Linked DNA regions of Homo sapiens. The protein of the gene in region 2 purifies or fractionates together with the protein of the main gene of each other region. This does not show direct contact. Each region holds a gene or a part of one and is shown on either strand. Other genes may lie near its edges.

Region 1 (3,701 bases), on a different chromosome or scaffold from region 2:
AATGCCTCGGCCATAATTTACATAACAATACCCCTATTAACAGGCATTCCCTTTGTTTCCACGTTTTTTGCCACTACTAACATTGAAAATTGAAACACTGTTGCAGCTAACACTCCTGTAAACTCTTACTGGTGCTTTTATTTCTAAGGAAAAGATTACATGGAGTTAGACTGATGGGTGGAAAATACATGTATTCTCAGTATTAACTGATGTTGCTTGATTGTTTACTAGGAAAAACTCTAACACTTCACATCTCCGCTAGCATTTTATGAGATAATCCTTCTCCACATATCCCTGCTAGCAGTAGGTTTACCACTTAATTTTTGCTTGTCAGAGAAATAATATTTCATTGTTAGTATATTGATTACTAGTAAGGTTACACATCCTTTACTGTTTGTTGAATGTTTGGATTTCTCTTCTGTGAACTTCTGGTGACATGTTTTATCCATATTTTTACTGGGTGAACTTTTTCTTAATTGGAAAGAGTTCTTTCAATGGTTAACTCATCTGTTACATATATCTCAAGCCTTTTTTTCCGCCTGATTTTGTCTTTGGTCCTTTATTTTTGCCACTAAAGAATCCTTCGTTTCCATGCAGTCTCATGTGTCTATCCATACTTTTATGACTTTTAGGTTTCCTATCTTGGTTTAAAAAACTACATCTGGATTGTTTGTATAAAGGAAATTTAGGAGATTAATATCTTAAATATTTTATTGTTTACATTTAAGCCTCTAATCCATCTGAAATCAGTTTTTGCATCTGTTGCAATGTATTGGATCAATTATATTTTCTTCTAGATGAGCAAGTTGTATCAGTTAACATTTATGATATATATGTGCCCTTTTTCACCATTGGATTGAATTATCCCTTTGAAATGTGGTAAATTATCTTATATACTGAGATTTACTCTGCTTTTTAAAATTCTGCTGCACTTATATACTTAAAATTAAAAATATATTTACACACCTATAAAATTAAATAACTTACTCAGCTACCTGGATGAGACAAAACATTTTCACTTAAGATATCCAAGTAGTTAAGATGAAAGAATTATTTAGGTGCCTTAATTTTCCATATCAAATTAAGAAATATTTTGCAATGCCTACTGACATTATGAATTCAAATATACAGAAGGTATAGTAATAAATTTTAATTTTTTCTTTAATGCATCAATCTAGAGATAATTACTTATTTTGATGCATTTCCTTACAACTTTTTCCATATGTATATACTATTATTATTATACATATGCTCTTTTTTCAATTTTAAAGGTATTTTCCAATTCAATTAGTCTTCTCTATTGTACCTTTAAACATTAAAAAAATTAAACTAAGAACTAAAAACTTATAAAGTCTGGTTGCTTTTCATTGCTCAAGCACATCTGAAACTCTTCTATATCATATCATATACCACCCATTTTATTTTCAGTGAAATAAGCTTAATTATTTTTCAGAAAAGAAACAAAATGTGGCATGTTGCAGATAAAATTTTTTTAAAGGCTTACCAAGAGAACAGTTTCAACAGATAGCATTAAGATCCAAAACTGAAATTTTTGTTGTTAGTCATAATAATACCAAAAATAATAGTGATTTTTAAAACCTTAAGATATAAGAAAGTGTTTCCTTCTAAAATTTAAATCTGAAAATACTTATGATATACCATTAATTTTTAAAAACAGCTAATCACAGTTGTAAATTTATTAACTAGAGCTAACTACAAAGAAATATACAGAAAGAGGAGTTTCAAATGTAAATAAATCATTATTCTAAAGATCACTTCAGTAGTTTCAGGTAAAAATAAATATGTTACTACGAAGATACACAACCACTTCAGCTGTCTTTATATATACATACACACACATTGCGTACTTTATATACTACAAATATTTACTCTATATATAGTATATACATAATATGTATATACTAAATATAAATGAATACACTTATAAAAACCAAAGTCGCTATCATTTCACCATAGGGAAAAAAGAGAATAGCAAAACTAATATTCTCTTCAGAAATTATATGGAAAACATTTTTATTGCTCACATTTCATTTATTTAAAATAAAGTTACTTAGTATAAAGAATAAATTCATTCCTAAATCAATAAATCCATTTGTTATAATAGACAATCAACATTAAGGAAAAGTCAATAAACTTAATAAAATCTTTCCTTAAGACAAATGAGTAATTTTTTTTTTCAGGAATAAAGTGATTCATAAACTCATGATAGCTATACTTACTGTTTAATTTGCTGATATTTTCCATTGCAAAACTACTAACCCTTGTGAATCATGAATTTAAGAAGGGAAGAATTTTACTCTAGTTTATGTCTCCATTATGTTCTCTACATTTCTTTGTCTATTTCATATAAGGATAAAAATAAGATATAAAAACACTTAATTTTTTTAAAAAGACAAAATTTTTAAGCTTATAAGCATTAACTCAAAAGTCCCTGCTCTACAATCTGTACAATTTTAATATACTTCTATAATCCATTGCAGGAATAAAAACTTCAAAATTGAAGAACTGCCTCCTTAAATTTATTCCATACATTAATGATTACAAGCTTTGGAAAATCTTTATATAGAAAATATTAAGACACTGCAGTTGCCCAAATAAGGGACTTTATCTTGATATTTTTCAGATAAAATTAATAAATCTGTTTTAGAATCTTTGCTACAAGTACACTTTTCTTGTTCCCCCATTTTTTGGGTAATAGCTTCTTTTCAAATTCTACTCTCTTCTTCATGCCCCAAACCTGCTGCTCACAGGGACATCAGTCAATTCTGTGGGTTGTCTTAAGTCTTTAGAAATTCAGTATATAAAATCAAAGTAGTTATCAGTAAAATTAATTAAAAATTTTTTTTACAAAATATGTTCTAGGCATTTTACATTCATGATCTAACTTAATAGCACCATCTATAGATTTAAACGTGAGAAAACTTAACCTTACTTAAGTACACTGTCCAAAGTCACACAGTTATTAAGTGGTAGGGCCAGAACTTCAACTAGGTCTCTATGACTGGGAAATCAATTCATGTAAAGTCTGAGCTACACTGCTTTACCATTTTACACACCACTTAGTTTTTTTTGTTTTTGTTTTTGTTTTTTTTGAGATGGAGTCTCACTCTGTTGCCCAGGCTGGAGCGCAGTGGTGTGATCTTGGCTCACTGCAACCTCCACCTGTCGGGTTCAAGTGATTCTCCTGCCTCAGCCTCCTGAGTAGCTGGCACTACAGGCGCGTGCCGCCATGCCTGGCTAATTTTTTTAATTTTTTTAAGTAAAGACAGGGTTTCACCGTGTTAGCCAGGATGGTCTCGATCTCCTGACGTTGTGATCTGCCCGCCTTGGCCTCCCAAAGCACTGGGATTACAGACACCACTTAGTTTTTAAGATATTTTCACATAGATTACCTAGGGTTTATGTCATAGGAAGGTTCCTAAGTATCAAACCTGAACCCCTCCCCAGCATTACGTAAAAGGACATATAACTAAAGTGGCAGAGCTGAATGAAGATCCTCTGACTTTTAGTCTAGTGCTAGTCCACTTATAGATCACGCAGAGCCACTTTTTCATTTAGTACGATTCATTCCTCTTCCCTTCTCTCCCATATTTTGATGATAACCATACTTATTAGTAAACAAACATGCTGTGAAAATAAGTTGGTCTCAGCATTAATAAAGTCCATCTGAGGTTTTTATC
Region 2 (4,126 bases):
TCTCTAAGTGTCTGTTAGAGAATGCACATTTCAGTTGAAATCTGGATAAAACCTAGGGAGAACTTAAATAGGCTGTTTTTAAGTTATTGCAGCCTGTACAAAAATATATTCTATACCTGACTTTAGCCACCTTACGTTCAGAGGTCCCAAGTGACTGATTATTTTGTTGTGACCTATCTATTTGTATATTTGATTTGTGCCTGTTTTTCTTTTATTTCTGTTTAGGTACCCTGTTTGCTATAATGAATTATTCCCTCCCACCATTATGCCTTCCGCTTGAGTCTCTTTCAGAACCAGTCATTTAACTTTAGATAGAAAGATTTTTCAGAATTGTGCTAAACTGGATGAAAATCCCTGGGGTTCTTTTTCAGTTCTGTCTAAATCATGCACTCAGGACGATAGTTGTGAAGGCTGTGTGATCATCTCAGAATCTTTCATTGGTTTCAGCATGGGCTATATATTTTTTAAGTTCATTTGTGTCTTTTGAAGAAATTCTACACACCTGAGACTATGCTACAGATCTTTACTGGAAGTCTCCAGGTAACACTTCTTAATATATTTTCCGCATAAGTAAAATACTTTTGTTCTGTAAACAATGGCAAATGTCATCAGAAGAAATTAGGTTCCAGAAAGAACTTCTAAAACAAGCAAATCATTGTATTACTCTTAAATTTTATTAACATCTTCAGTTTGTGCGTCATTTAAAATGAGACATGTGCTTTAAAAAGCATTCTTATACATAAATAGACCAAGGAACAGTTAGGTAATTGATCCCTAAAACATGCACATCAATTTTATTCAGGTGTGTATAAGAAAGGGAAATAAGCTTTAAACCTTTTTCTTTGGATTAAAAACATTTGGAAATTATTCAGGAATGCCAAATGTTTTTCTGGAACAGATGTATTTTCCAATAGGAAATACTGATGCAATTAAGAGGCATTAGTGTTGATAAAGAAGACTGGAAAAACGTTTGTGCTATGCTAGATAAACAAGAAAAGAGTTCAAGTGGGCCTAAGATCTATGTCAAATAAATGAATCAGGTAGCATGAATTGAAAGGTTTGGATAGAAGAACAGGTACCATGAGCCAGATTATGGGACACATATATGTTCAAGGCACATGACTAGGCTAAACAGGTGGCTAGATTCTACAGACTAATTTGTTCATTCATTGAGAAAGTGTAAAATGTAATATAATTTCAATTTAATGGCACTTATTGATAAATAAATGCAATTGGATCTAGGGTAGAAAATGTCTTCCTTTCAGATACACACCAGAAATGCATACTAGATAACAGATGCCAGTAGCGATATGATTACAGTCCAATTTTCTTACACTGCAGTTAAATGGTTGTTAAACTGTTTTGTATTAATTCTATATGTCATACTGTCTATTCTCTTTCAAGTTTCACAAAAGAATTCATCAAAACTAGGCAGATTTAAGAATTTATTTAACCACAAAGAATGCTCAAAACTATTATTCAACAGGAATCAAGCCCAAACCCTGGAGTTGACTGCTGACCGTATTCGGTTTGGGCTTTTCCCAGAATGGAAACACTTTTCCCACACTACCTCCCTTTGCACAGCTAAAATGCTAGCATATCCACTGTGGTTCCCTTCTTTTTCTTTGGCAAGTCAGAGGAATTTACCTCCCCACCCCCTCTACTACATATTCTATTAGCGACACGATTGCCCTAAATATTCACAGAAGAAAAAGGAACACATTTAAAAAACTGCAACTTTCAACAATATTTAAACCTTCATCTTCTCAAATCAACTGCAATGGGAAAACAGAAGATATCAAGCTATCCACTGTATTGTGAATGATCAGCACACTGAACTTTATTCCTGAAAGTCAATATTAGGAGGACAAGGATAATTCTGTGTGCTTCTAATGGGCTAGCAAAATGTTCCCCATCTAACTGAAATAAGAATGTTTCATACTTTACTTGTCTGAGCTCTTAGAAGGAAGCAGCACCAACATCATTACAATTCCCCAAATAACAACTATTATCCATTTATATTGTTTTGAAGCACCTAAAACTTCTCAATAACAAAAGACATTAAGATGAGATGTTAGCAATACTGTCTCTTGAATACTTTTGTGTGCACATACAAAGTTTCTCCATAGTTTTAGTAGATAGCTCATAAGACTAGCGGCGACAGCTTTGAGCAATTAAAAACAAAAATGTTTCTCTAAATAGATGACACTAGTTAACAAACCAAAGAAATAAACAAAAGCCTTTTTAAGGCTACTGCTGCAATGAATGGTTCAATCTGAAGTTCACAGGAATAAACTGGTAGATAAGACAAAGATAAACCTGGAGGCATGGAACAAGATTTTAAAAAGTGAGAAGAGGGTTGAAGAGACTGGCAGATACCATCTGTCAGTATGTGAAAGGCTTGAGTCACATGGATTGCTTTTAACTCCTTGTTCTCTCATATCCTTGGTTAATGGTAACTTCTTCTTTCCTATTTCTTCACACAGCTTGGCCATGTAAATCCACCACAGAGAGGTGAAACAATGATATAGATGAACACCTGGAGGGACGAGGAGAGCAATTTTATTTTCTTGAATCAATCATATTATTCTAAATAATATATATAGGAAAGTAGAGCCTTATTAAGAAATACTTCTGATTCCATTAGAGTAGCAGTTATGTAGTAATGGAACACACTAAACAAGTATTTTCCAAGACAGAAGTGTAGTTAACATTGTCGTTTTTGGTATAACTCACACCCACTTGAACTCTAGCGTTTCCTTCAGTGGGAGAGAAAGCAGTGGGGTTGTTGCTCTTCACTGGTAACTCGGCAGAATCAAGGCTAAATGAGCAACTCATACTGATGTGTCATTAACAAGTCATAAAAAAATCACAAATAACCATAATTCTCCTGAAGTATGGTTTCATTAATTATATTTTTAGGTTTTGCACATGAATTTTATTTTTGATTAATATAAGAATATATTTTAAAAGCCTGAGTAGAAGGCTTTCATCTATATCACTTATGAGCAAGAACACTGCTACGAACTGTTCAGTGGATAATGACACAATAATTACGATGACCAAAACAATGAAAAGCAGATGATGTAAGTAACACTGCAAAAATACTGGTGCTATTACAGATGTGTTTGCTTTTTAATTCTAGATTATAATTTTAAATTATATTATAAAAGTCACTACTTGTTCACATTATTATATCACAAAAAATAGATTTTAAACATTAGGTTCACTGCATTAGTCACTTTATTTTATTTATTTTTTATTTTTTATTTTTGTAGAGATAGGGTGTCACTATGTTGACCAGGCTGGCTTCAAACTCTTGGCCTCAAGCAATCCTCCTGCCTCAGCTTCCCAAAGTGCTGGGATTACAGGCATAAGCCCCTATGCCTGGCTTTATTTTGCTTTAAATTACAACTTTTTGAGATCTTTAAGTGACTGATTTCATTATTTGCAAGCTTGGAAAAGGATGCATTGATGAATTGCATGCCCTTTGCTCCAAAAGTGAGCAAAGCATTTTGCCTTGTAGGGAACTATAAATATTGCCAGGGTTGGGGGGCAGATTACAGCAAATTCTGTTTATTAATGAATAGGTTGAACTTCTGACATCATATTCACACATACACACACATACTCACACATACACATGCCACAAATGTAAAGTTTACCAACTTGATGTAAAGTTGACTATTTGTCACAGCTGTAATATAAGGATTTTTCAAGCTGAAGTACATCTCGTTAGGTGACAACACCTTTTCGCAAAGATTGATATTGCATTTAGAGCTGTGCTCTGCATGTAATAAGTAATCAGTAAATATATTCTGAATTTAACAATTCAGCTGCACAAATCAACCTAAACTCCCAGACCAAATAATAAGTAAGAAGCTAAGCTCAGGAGCCTAAAATGTGATATTAGAAAGAGAAACCTGAGCAAGGAACCATTCAAGGCCATGACAATTACTTCCAGTATAAAATCTACAGATCTATGACTGCTCTTCTCTTTTAGATAAATCCAGCTGTCTAAGGCAGAGGACCCTCAAGCTGTGGTAGAGGAGAAGCAGGGTCAGAGTTATCTGCTTGGAGGTAACTTTGGGCTTCTGGACATGACTGGAGGATGGGGAGGAAAGGC
Region 3 (3,701 bases), on a different chromosome or scaffold from region 2:
AGCTAGATTGGAGAAACATTTCAGGCAAAAATAATTAAGTATATGGGTAAAGTTTAAGGTTCTAATTGGATGACAAGGTATGTACAATTGCCATAATAGTGTCAATATTTTATATATAAACAAAATAAATATAAAGGAGCTATAAGGTATTAGGTGGGCATGTCATATGTACAACTAGAACTAGACTTGAAACTTATGATTTTGAGGTAAGAGGGATATTAGGCAAATTGAGAACACATAAGCACACATGTACTTGAAGGAGTCAAGGCTTGAAAAACAAATAGCTAGCTGTATAGGGAAGAAGGAAGAGACATTTTTGGAAGAGGAAACTGGGAATGCCCAGAAGTGGGCCGATTCATTCAGGAAAACAAGAGGCCATTGTAGCAGAAGCACCAAGGGCAATAGATGGAGGGGTATTAAAAATGAAGCACTCGAAAAACACATATATACACAGGCTGGGCGGGGTGGCTCACATCTGTAATCCCAGCACTTTGAGAGGCCAAGGTGGGAGGACTGCTTAAGCCCACAAGTTTGAGACCAGTCTAGGCAACACAGCGAGATCCCACCCTCTACAAAAAATTTAAAAATTAGCCAGGCATGGTGGTATGTGCCTGTAGTCCCAGCTACTTGGGATGCTGAGGCAGGAAGATCACTTGAGCCAGGGAGGTCAAGGCTGCAGTGAGCCGTGATCACACCACTGCACTCCAGCCTGGGTGACAGAGACCCTGTCTCAAAAAAGAAAAAAAAAAAAGGATCAGAAGAGGGCCAAGTCACACAGATTACAGATTATGCCCTGGCTTTAAGGTGTTTGGATTTTACTTCCAGAACAATGGGAAGTCATTAGAACCATTTAAGCAAAGGAGTAGTAAGTTAATGTTTTTTGAAGGTTACTATTCCAAAAGAAGGAAGGTTACTATTCCAAAGGAGGAAACAACTTCGAGAAGTTGATACTAGTCACAATCACTTCACAAATTTGCCAATTAGGTGGTTGCTAATGGCAAGGCAGAGGTCTACGTCAGGTTTTAATGGACTAAGGAATGAATAGAGGCTGAGGAAGCAGAAAGGCAATAAATACTTTTAAAAACAGTGGACAAGCAAGGAGAAGCAGAAGAGAGTCTTATATATACTTTTTATAGGAAGGCAAGAGAAGTTGGATATTAAAGGAAGGAGGTGGGACACTGAAGAAGATAACTGATGTAACAAGTTCTCAAAGAAGAATCTATCTGTTGCTGTTTTAATGAGGTTTAGATGATAAAGGACACTGGGGGAGTTGCCACAGCAAAATCTCAATTTCCCTGTGAAGAAATAAAATAAAGGTCATTTACTAGAAAGTGGAAAGAAAAGAGAGTAAATGAACAGACAGAGACTTTTGCAAAGTGACTATTTAGAGGACCCATGAGACATTTGAAAAGAAATGACCACAGTTAAAGCAGCACTAGAGCAATGCTCACTGTATGAAATGGAAGAATACAGAAGCTATATGGCTGGATTCATCTAAGGTCAGGAATTAGTAATAATTATTCCAGGAATGTCTGCATAAAATGAATTATAAAAAATTATTGTTATAAACACTGAAATAATTTTTTTAAGCTTAGGAAAATTGCACAACTCTATGAATATACTAAAAACCACCTGCTTGTGTACACTTTAAAAAAGAAAGAATAGTATACGCTGCTACAATATTCACAGATGTAGGAAGAGGTAAATAGAGAGTAGAATACTCCAGCAGGGTGTTCACTTCCTGTAGGAGGATCTACATGGCAAGTCAAGAAATAATCAGAAAAGTGGTCTGGTAAGTATAAAATCTGAAAAAGGGAGTGGGAAAAATCAAGTATTTAATAGGATCATGCCAAGATCATGCAAAAAGTAAATGTCAACCTAATATATGGCTGTCACATAAACTTTTCCCCAGGTGCCGTAAATTTTCAGCCTTTGTTTGTCAAAAGATACTCATATTACTTTTATCAGGGGGAAAGAGGGGATTAAAAAATATAAAACCCTCACCATGGAGCAACAACCCTTTGGTTTTGCTAACTGAATTGGTTCTAGACCTACAGGCTTTGTTCTTGATGCTTTACAACTTCTATGGCATTTAATTTTCTTTAATTTTCTTTTTTTTTTTTTTTTTTTGAGACGGAGTCTCGCTGTTGCCCAGGCTGGAGTGCAGTGGCGCAATCTCGGCTCACTGCAGGCTCCGCCCCCTGGGGTTCACGCCATTCTCCTGCCTCAGCCTCCCGAGTAGCTAGGACTACAGGCGCCCGCCACCTCGCCCGGCTAATTTTTTGTATTTTTAGTAGAGACGGGGTTTCACCGTGTTAGCCAGGATGGTCTCGATCTCCTGACCTCGTGATCCGCCCGCCTCGGCCTCCCAAAGTGCTGGGATTACAGGCGTAAGCCACCGCACCCGGCCGGCATTTAATTTTCAAAACACTTCAGACACTACTCATCTATCCCATGAAGAACTCAAAAGTAAATGGAGAGCAAAGTTTTGGGTGAGATGTAATAATCAGAATGTCAAACCAAACTCAGAGCTGCAGTGCCAGGGATCATCAAAATGGTTAAAAATAAAGTACAAACCATATTTCAAGAACCCATACAACCATTCTGTTTTTCACTTTCAGTACAGAATTCAATATATTACATGAATATAATTATATTCAACAGTTTATTATAAATAGGCTTTGTTTTACACAATTTCCCCCAACTTTAGACTAATGTAAGTGTTCTGAGTATGTCTAAGGTAGGCAAGACTAAGCTATGATGTCCCGTAGGTTAGATATATTTCAAATAACAATATTTTCAACTGACACCGGGTTTATCAAGATGTAACCCCCAGTAAGTCAAAGAGTATCTGTATTTGTTTATTGACAGTGGTCATATAAAGCAAAGAAAGACGCTTAAAGTTGCCATCTAAGGAGGAAATTCAAGGCTCATTTCATACAAGTATAAACATTATTTTGACATAGGAAAAAATGAGTAGAAAAAAATCTAAAATTATATACTTACTTTGTCTAATTAATCTTTTGTCAGCAACCAAAACATTTTCAGCATCCACAATGATTACCTTCCCATCTCTAGGACCAACTGCAAAATTGTCAAAGCTGACGTCCAGGAGGTAGAGTGCAAATTCAAAGTCATTGTTTGTAAGCTGTTCTGCTATTTCCATTAATTGCCAAGCGAGGTCAACTCGTTTTTCCCATGGCGCATTAAAGTAACTCCACAGTTCTTCTCCAACATAATTTACAGCCACCATTCTTCCACAAGCTCCAAGATACTTTGCAAATGGCCAACCTTCATCAGACGGAAAACTCTACAAAAGAATTATCTTAATATTACAAGAGATTCTGATGAAAATATCCTAGGTCTATCCTCAGATCCTTTCAGTAGAGATTGCTACTAGGAATGACTTTGGATTTTCTTATTACATTCAACAGTTTATTAGAGATTAACTTCATTTTTTCCTAACTCATACCAGTACTATGGACCTGAAAAAAATTTAAATAGAGAACTTTACATTATAAAGCTAAAATAGGATGACAAGTCTTGCTTATCAAAATCTAAGAACCAAAATGATCAATAAGAGGGAAGACACTGTCTTTATTACCAAATCTAAAAGTATTTATGCTTTCCCTTATCTTCTTCACTTGTGTAAATGTAATCAACCAATCCTTTTATTTAAACTGATAGCACTGCAGCCTATT
Region 4 (3,701 bases), on a different chromosome or scaffold from region 2:
CAGAAGATGATGGCTTAACTCCCATTGTAGATTACTTAATGTTGTCAGTTATTCAGAGAACTTGGCTGAAAGATAGATCTAACATCCCCTCTGAAAATCAGAATGCTTAAGAAAAAAAAGCATGCCTGAAGAGGTCACCCCTGCACCTGGAAAGGAGTAAAGAGTACTTTGCAGACAAGAATGACATTATCCTTAGGAAATATATTTAAATTTCTCTTCAATAAATAGACAAACGGGTACTTTCCCTGAAGTCCCACTCCATAAGCATAGCCTTAAATTTTTTATTCTGCAAAATATCCAGGGTACACATTTCCAGGAACACTGATCAGGGTCCAAGGATTCAGCATATTGGGATAGTGAATGGTCTCTGAAGACCTATAGATAATTCAGTATCTACTCAAGGAGGTGATCTTTAATTAACTGCACTACTGTGACTGAGAATAAGACTTAGCACAATACATTACCACCAACAGTCATGGATCTGGTCAAAGGAGGCTGTAGCAAAGTTTCTTCATCATTAAATTGCTTCTTAAGTTCTTCTACAGATTCCAAATGGAGTTGGAGAAATTCTGCTGTTGCTGCTGATGCTTCTTCTTTAACAGGATCTATCATTCTCTTCAGAAGTACTAGGTCATCCTTTCGGACTTTCAAACAAAGTTTCTCAATTTCTCGGATATTGGATCGGAGTTGCTATAAAAGAAAAAAATCATTAATGCCACCATTTCTTAGTATAAGATATCTTTCTTTTCAGAAGTAATGTTATAATAGTTGTGGATGGAAATTATAACAAATATCTCCACAATAGAAGGTGTAGCATAATACTTTTACATTTTCCATGTCTCTGGCTGGCCAAATGCAGCATCTTTGGAACCCACATGCTCATACTTTGAATTTATTTAGCATTTTTCCTTCATTAAATGTGGTTATACAAAAATAAATGCTCTTCACAATAAATCAAACACTACAGAAGCATATGAAATAAAAATGATATTCTCACTTCACCTATCCCACCCCCTCTTAACTCAATACTCCCACACATTTCTCACGGCTCATGCACACATTTAACATATATAAGGCTTCTCCCTTTTTATTAAAAAATGGATTACATTATACACAGTAATCTATAATTTGCCATTCCATACTCAACAATATTATCCCTCCTGCTCAATGGTTACACTATATTCCACGGTGTAGTGTAGAATAATTTACTCAGTCACTCCTTCGGTGATCAACATTCATGTTGTTCCTAATTTTTAGTTATTACAAACTATGAAACAAATATCCCTGCATATAAGTCCTAATTTACTATATTAGTATATATTAACATTATAGTATACACTAATATTAATATATTATTTTGTGTAGGAAAGACTCCCAGAAACAGGAATATTCAAATGATAATGTGCATTTTTATTTCAGAAGCTATTGTTGTTTTTTTCCCAAAAAGCAGTAACACTTCACACTAGCATCAAGGTATGATTGCCTATTTCTTCACATGCTGCCAGTCCTGCATGTCATCTCACTGTTGCTTTACTCTGCACTTCCCTATGAATGAAGTTGTTAGATTTTTATCAAATGATTTTCCTTCTTTTTGAGAAATACCTACTGGCTTAGTTATAAATTTACCTCTAATATGTTGCTATAATGAATTATGTACAGATTTTGTAGTGTAGAGTCATCTTTATATTCCTGGGATAAAGCCTTTCTAGTCAATATATATAATTTTTAAATACAATGCTGAATTCATTTGCTAGTATTTTATTTGAAACTTTAGCACATAGGAGTGTGTGTGTGTGTGTGTGTGTGTATACATGTGTGCATGTACACAGTTTGTGTATTTATACTATCTTTACTAGGTTTAAATTTGCTTTAACAGGTTTAAGGTTGTGCTAACTTCATAAAATATACTGGGGAGCTTTCCCTCTTTCTCAATGGTCTATACTTTGAAAACAAAGAAACAATCCCTTTAAGATTAAATAGAACAAATTTGCAAAAATAATCAAAGTAAGAAAAGTTATATGTCTATTCATATATTTTAAATTATTTTCCCCTAAAGTGTTTTCACAATATTAATGCAAATCCTACACAGTAGACAGACCAGTTAAGTAAGAATTAATTTTTCAAGTGCATACTCTGAGTGAGGTGTTACATTATTACAGTCCAAATTATTACATATGGAAAAAGCAAACAAAAAAAAACCTGTTTAGGATTTACTTAAGTTATCTAGTGGCAAAACTGGGGTTAAAACCCAGATATTCCGATAGGGCCAGCAATCTTTCCACTAAACTATAATAATAATGTCTATCTATGTAGTATCTTAATATAATACAATCTAAAGTTTCCATTTTACTGTAGTAAAATTAAAGTCAATTCTAGAAAAAAAAATAGTTTAGTTACAACCTAAAGCATCTTGTAAGATTTTTCTGGGTGAAAAAATTGTGCCTCTATCTTACCATGACTCTATACTTCCTGTAACCTTATCTTCAGTCTCTTACCATTCTAATATGAGCTGAAAAACCTAAGGATAATTAAACTGTAGATTCAAAATATGTGAAATGTAGGTATTAATATGTTAAAATTATATAACCTTAAAGGGGGCATAAGTGAGCATCTAATACAACCTCACAATTTTACAATAAGGAAACTGGAGTCTAGACAAACACAGTGGCAGAATTTGGACTACAGCCCAGGCCTCAAGTCCCAGAACAATACTGTTTCCAACACACCACCATTTCCTGGCTATGTGACTCCTTTCTGGACCATAATTATAAAGCTTGGTTATATAGTTACCAGTCTACAGAAATATTTTAGGTAATATTATCTTGGAGAAGCATTAAAAATTTTCTACAGCCAAACTTAATGAGCATTTGTTTGTGACACCTTCCTCACTTATGTAATTTGTACATATGTCTGTCCCCAGTCAAATTACAGTATCCAGCTAAGAACTCTATTACTATGAGTAATGTGGAAAATTTTGAGGGAGAGAAAGAAAAAACCCACTGAAGTATAAAATCTGATACTATAATAACAGCAACAATGATAACAAAAACATAAATAGTGGCTAAATTTTAATCAACACTTAAAGTTATCGATTGTGCTAACAGCTTTACGTCTTTTATCTTCCCCTCACAATATATCTTTGAAATGGATATTACTATTATTCTCATTTTATAGAAGAGAAAATTAAAGCAAGAAGTTCAAAAAGTAGCCCAGGATTACACTGCTAGTAAATAGTATAGGCAAGAATCAAATCCAGACCACAGATCTTGTGTTCTAACTACTTTATTACATAGCAAACACCATCCAACACAAACATAATGCAAATCACACACACAAGCCACATATGTAATTTAAAAATTTTTTAAATTACATTAAAAAAGTAAAAACAAGGGAAATTAATTTTAATAATATTTTATTTAACCTAATATAGCTAAAATACTATTTTAATATGCAATTATAAAACTTAAAATCTTTTACATTGTTTTATTTGTAGTAAGTCTTAGAAATCTGGTATATATTTTACATTCACAGCACATCTCAGTTCAAACTGGCTACATTTTAAGTGCTCAACAGTCACATGTAGTTAGGAGCTACTACATTGGATAGGGCAACTAGGGAATCTCTCTAAAATCAAACAGAGGGAACAGGATGGTAAAACCATATATGAAGAACATAAAGTCAGGTGTTTCTGCTTCTGAAAA
Region 5 (3,701 bases), on a different chromosome or scaffold from region 2:
TCCATAATGACAGACACCATATTCGAAAAAGTGGTTACTCCTGGAGAAGGGAGAGTGGGATCAACAATGGATATACAAAGGGCTTCAAATGTGTCTGTAAATAAATGTGTCTGTATGGGGCAGGGGAGGGGGAGATGGAGAGGAGAAAGGAATTAAAACTATATGGCAAAATGGATGATGGGTATAACAAAGTTCATCAGATCACTTGTACTTTGTATTTCCATGATAATAGACAAAGTCTATGCCTAGACCTACATTAGATGCAAGTAAACATCAACAAAAGTAAATTTACAGACGTTAGGTTCAGCCACCACAAAGGTAGTACAAACTTACATGAAGTAAAGCTATAAAACAGAAACACAGAATCAAGAAACAGCAGCACAGATTTAGGGACATCAAACAAGGGCAATGCAGTGAAAAACAATCATACAGGTTATTTTGATTGCCATATATTTCCCTCTCATTCAAATATTATGAAAGAAAAGATGTTAGCAGACAACATAATCATAAGATATCTTTTTTAGAATAAAGACTAGAAAAATCCCCAGAACATCCTTAATGGAAAAGGCAAACACAGAGAGCATTTACTGTGAAAATGACAGAACAAAGAAACTGAACCTTCATACACAAAAAATGACGGACTGTAAAGTGTTTATTACACATGTTCAGAAGGTAGTCTTTACATATGAGACCTATATACACACGTCTGTATGCATGTGTGTATGTGGCATTATATGTCAATATATATTTACATGCCAATATTGGATTAGTTTTATTGAAAACTTATTGCATGATACTAAATGCAGTATGTTCATCTTAGTTGTGTTTTTTTTTTTTTTTTTAGAATATCTACTATAGCAATTTAAACTAATCACTGGGGAAAGATTCACATGTTTATTCTACAAAAACCCGTTGAACAACCTCATGTCAGGCATTAGGAAAATTCTGGTATGCTACCAGTGAAACAAGATATAATCCCTTTTATCAAGGAACATACTAGCTCTGGTGAAAAGAGGATAAACAACAAAAACACAAGGAAGGCAGACAACAGTTTTTATGTAATTAGTATCAGCTGTACAGACCTTTATAACAAATGCCTCAGGTTTCTAGAGCACTTGGGAGTAAATGGAACTAAGAAGGTAGACAAATCAATCAAAAAAGGAAGGAAGACAAACTATGACATTACCAAATTACTGCATTGATAATCCTTCCAAATAGTCAAAAAAAATTAATTTATGGCAAAAAACCAATTTGAATATTCATGAATTTAATGTAAAAGAACATTTTAAATCTATCAAATCTTACCAAGTATACATTTAGAAAAAAACTGAAAGAAGCAAAAACAAGTTGAATCTATGGACAAGAGATTTGGGGAAATAGCCACAAGCAGGGAAAATTTGAAGGAGAAAGAAAAATAGGCAAGCAAAAGGGAAAGAATAGAAGTAAAGAAAAAAGGAGAAGGGTACCACTTCCAAATTTCACATTTGTATCCCAGAAACTCTGAGTTAAACCCTGTATTACAGGAAAATATTTCAGATGGTTAGATTCAAAATGTTTATCCCTTGCAAGCAAGCCAGCCATTTCAATATCCAACATAAAGGCCCAGCATCCAGTATGTTAGTGTTATTTTGAAAAAACACAGCAACCTCTATGTAGTCAGGTCTTTGGACTTCATCTGCCTTTATCTAGTCTCACCCCTTCTGCTTTTATTTTTCTGAGATTGCTTGAAGAGACTTTTCTTTTATTTTCCTGTCAATATTCTCTGCACTATTATCCTAGAACTCTGTCTCAAAGATTTAACAATGATAATAGATAAAATGTTCTTTGTACTAACATGTATATATAGACAGTTCAATTCTAATAATCACATACTTCTGGGAAAATAACAATGAATTCCTAAGAAAGTGTCAGAGTTACAAATAGTTCAAACACATCTGGAGAAAAATCAGTTACTATAATGACAAAATTCAAAATCTTCACAAAAGGTAAGGATATTACTTGGCATGACTAAGCTTTATCTCTGAAACAGATGATATTAAAGTTCAACTATTCCACAAAATTGAATTCATCTATTTTATCAATATTCTGTAATGACACATGGCTCTTTAGTAGAAAATAAGCATTTACTGATATTAAATCCTGATTATTCCTATACTACAGGCACAAACTATTTCCTGTATTAAAAATACCACCAGTATTTCTAAGCCCTTGAAAGGCTACTAAAAAGAAAAAGTAACAAAAGGCATGAGGTAATTTTTTTAAGTTCCATCATAGTTGGCTAAATATAAAAATCAACCTTATACTATAAAATTATACAACTAAAATTTTAAAAATCAGTTTAATGGAAGGAATCTCTGTTCTTACCATTTGGTCCATGTAAGAGGCAAAGCACCAAAAGGCATCCACTTCATTTTCCATCACATATAAAAGAGGGGAAAGTAAATCACTCATTCCTTGAACATATCCTAAAAAGAAAAGAAAAAATCATCTCTGAAAACCCAAGTTTTATGTAACCTTCTGCAAGTTGTGCATATCACCACCATTTCGCTTAAAATTGTATCTTTCTCCTTTGCATTTAGAAATTGGTAGACACTGATGTTCACCAAGAAAAGAATATAAATGAAGAGGAGGAACTCTAGTCATAAGTAAGAAAGATGAGTTGTTTTAGATTGAGATGTCAAACAATATATAGCTTCCAGTACGTGTCTCAGTGCAGATACACTATCAAGAGTGGGTAATATTTTTAAAAATAATGTGCAAGAGCATCATGAGAAAGAAGAGGGGTGAAGAGATAATCCAGAGGAACATCAAATGTAAGAGTATACACTCAAAGACAGGTTTAAGAAAGACCAGTCAGAGAAGTAAAGAAAAAAATCAAGCGAGAATAATGTTGCAAAAATTAACAAGAAAGTTGCAAGCCCAGAGTGGTTAGCAATGCCAAACTACCATGAGTAAGCCACATAAAACAAGAACTTTGGGTTCAACTGCTTTAACAATCAGACCTTTAGATTCACATAACAGGAGTTACAAAATTAAGAGCCTCTTTTAAATAGTCATATCTACGTCCTTCTTTCTTTTTTTGTTACTCTCTACACCCAACCAATGCCAGCAACTGGGCTTAACCCAATCAATATTTTGTACCTAAAGTGACCACTTACCTACATGTCTCTTGATATTATTACAATTTCTCAATGGTGACAGTAATAGAGCCCTTGATTAAAAGAAAAACTAGAAAATTAAGGAGTCAGATCCCTCACTTAAAAATAAGAAAAAGTGTTAGTTTTACTTTTTCACCTGAACATGTCAAACTTCTTTTTTACTTCCTCTTATAAAACCCTCAATTATCCTTGTTTTACAATTTTCAAGACTTGAAAAATTTTCAGACTTAAGAGGTTCTTGAACCAATGAAGGGACACGAACTTATACTAAGCCTTTTTACTTAAACGTTATCATTCAACTTCGGTAACTTTTGTGTATTTATTAAAATCATGTAGAAATTTCTTTATTGGTAGCTTGGGAAGTCTGGAAAATAGTCTTTCATTTGCGAATCCAAAGTTTACATTTTTATTCACCAAAATCTATCTGCACTGAAGCCATGTAAAAGTAAATATTTAATGAAAGAGGGAGGAGATAGTTCTGCTATCATATAAATGATACATAATTACACATTACTCTGTTTTGGAGGAAAACTTTAAAAAATG

The links.
Region 1: the proteins of VAMP7 (region 2) and ATP6V1A purify together in Homo sapiens (co-immunoprecipitation; one large-scale study listed by IntAct). This does not show direct contact.
Region 3: the proteins of VAMP7 (region 2) and DIPK2A purify together in Homo sapiens (affinity purification with western blotting; one study listed by BioGRID). This does not show direct contact.
Region 4: the proteins of VAMP7 (region 2) and STX17 purify together in Homo sapiens (affinity purification with western blotting; one study listed by BioGRID). This does not show direct contact.
Region 5: the proteins of VAMP7 (region 2) and TBC1D15 purify together in Homo sapiens (co-immunoprecipitation; one large-scale study listed by IntAct). This does not show direct contact.

The regions. Positions count from the first base shown.
Region 1 is NC_000003.12:113,749,894-113,753,594, reverse strand, and holds part of ATP6V1A (V-type proton ATPase catalytic subunit A), read right to left. Parts: intron 1-3,701. UniProt on the Homo sapiens protein: Catalytic subunit of the V1 complex of vacuolar(H+)-ATPase (V-ATPase), a multisubunit enzyme composed of a peripheral complex (V1) that hydrolyzes ATP and a membrane integral complex (V0) that translocates protons.
Region 2 is NC_000023.11:155,940,296-155,944,421, reverse strand, and holds the end of VAMP7 (vesicle-associated membrane protein 7), read right to left. Parts: intron 2,540-4,126; coding exon 2,471-2,539; coding exon of another isoform or gene 2,283-2,470; 3' UTR 653-2,282; downstream 1-652. UniProt on the Homo sapiens protein: Involved in the targeting and/or fusion of transport vesicles to their target membrane during transport of proteins from the early endosome to the lysosome. Required for heterotypic fusion of late endosomes with lysosomes and homotypic lysosomal fusion.
Region 3 is NC_000003.12:143,985,152-143,988,852, reverse strand, and holds part of DIPK2A (divergent protein kinase domain 2A isoform a precursor), read right to left. Parts: intron 3,311-3,701; coding exon 3,007-3,310; intron 1-3,006. UniProt on the Homo sapiens protein: May play a role in cardiomyocyte proliferation through paracrine signaling and activation of the PPI3K-AKT-CDK7 signaling cascade.
Region 4 is NC_000009.12:99,948,049-99,951,749, reverse strand, and holds part of STX17 (syntaxin-17), read right to left. Parts: intron 691-3,701; coding exon 465-690; intron 1-464. UniProt on the Homo sapiens protein: SNAREs, soluble N-ethylmaleimide-sensitive factor-attachment protein receptors, are essential proteins for fusion of cellular membranes.
Region 5 is NC_000012.12:71,912,590-71,916,290, reverse strand, and holds part of TBC1D15 (TBC1 domain family member 15), read right to left. Parts: intron 3,212-3,701; exon of another isoform or gene 3,159-3,211; intron 2,466-3,158; coding exon 2,365-2,465; intron 1-2,364. UniProt on the Homo sapiens protein: Acts as a GTPase activating protein for RAB7A. Does not act on RAB4, RAB5 or RAB6.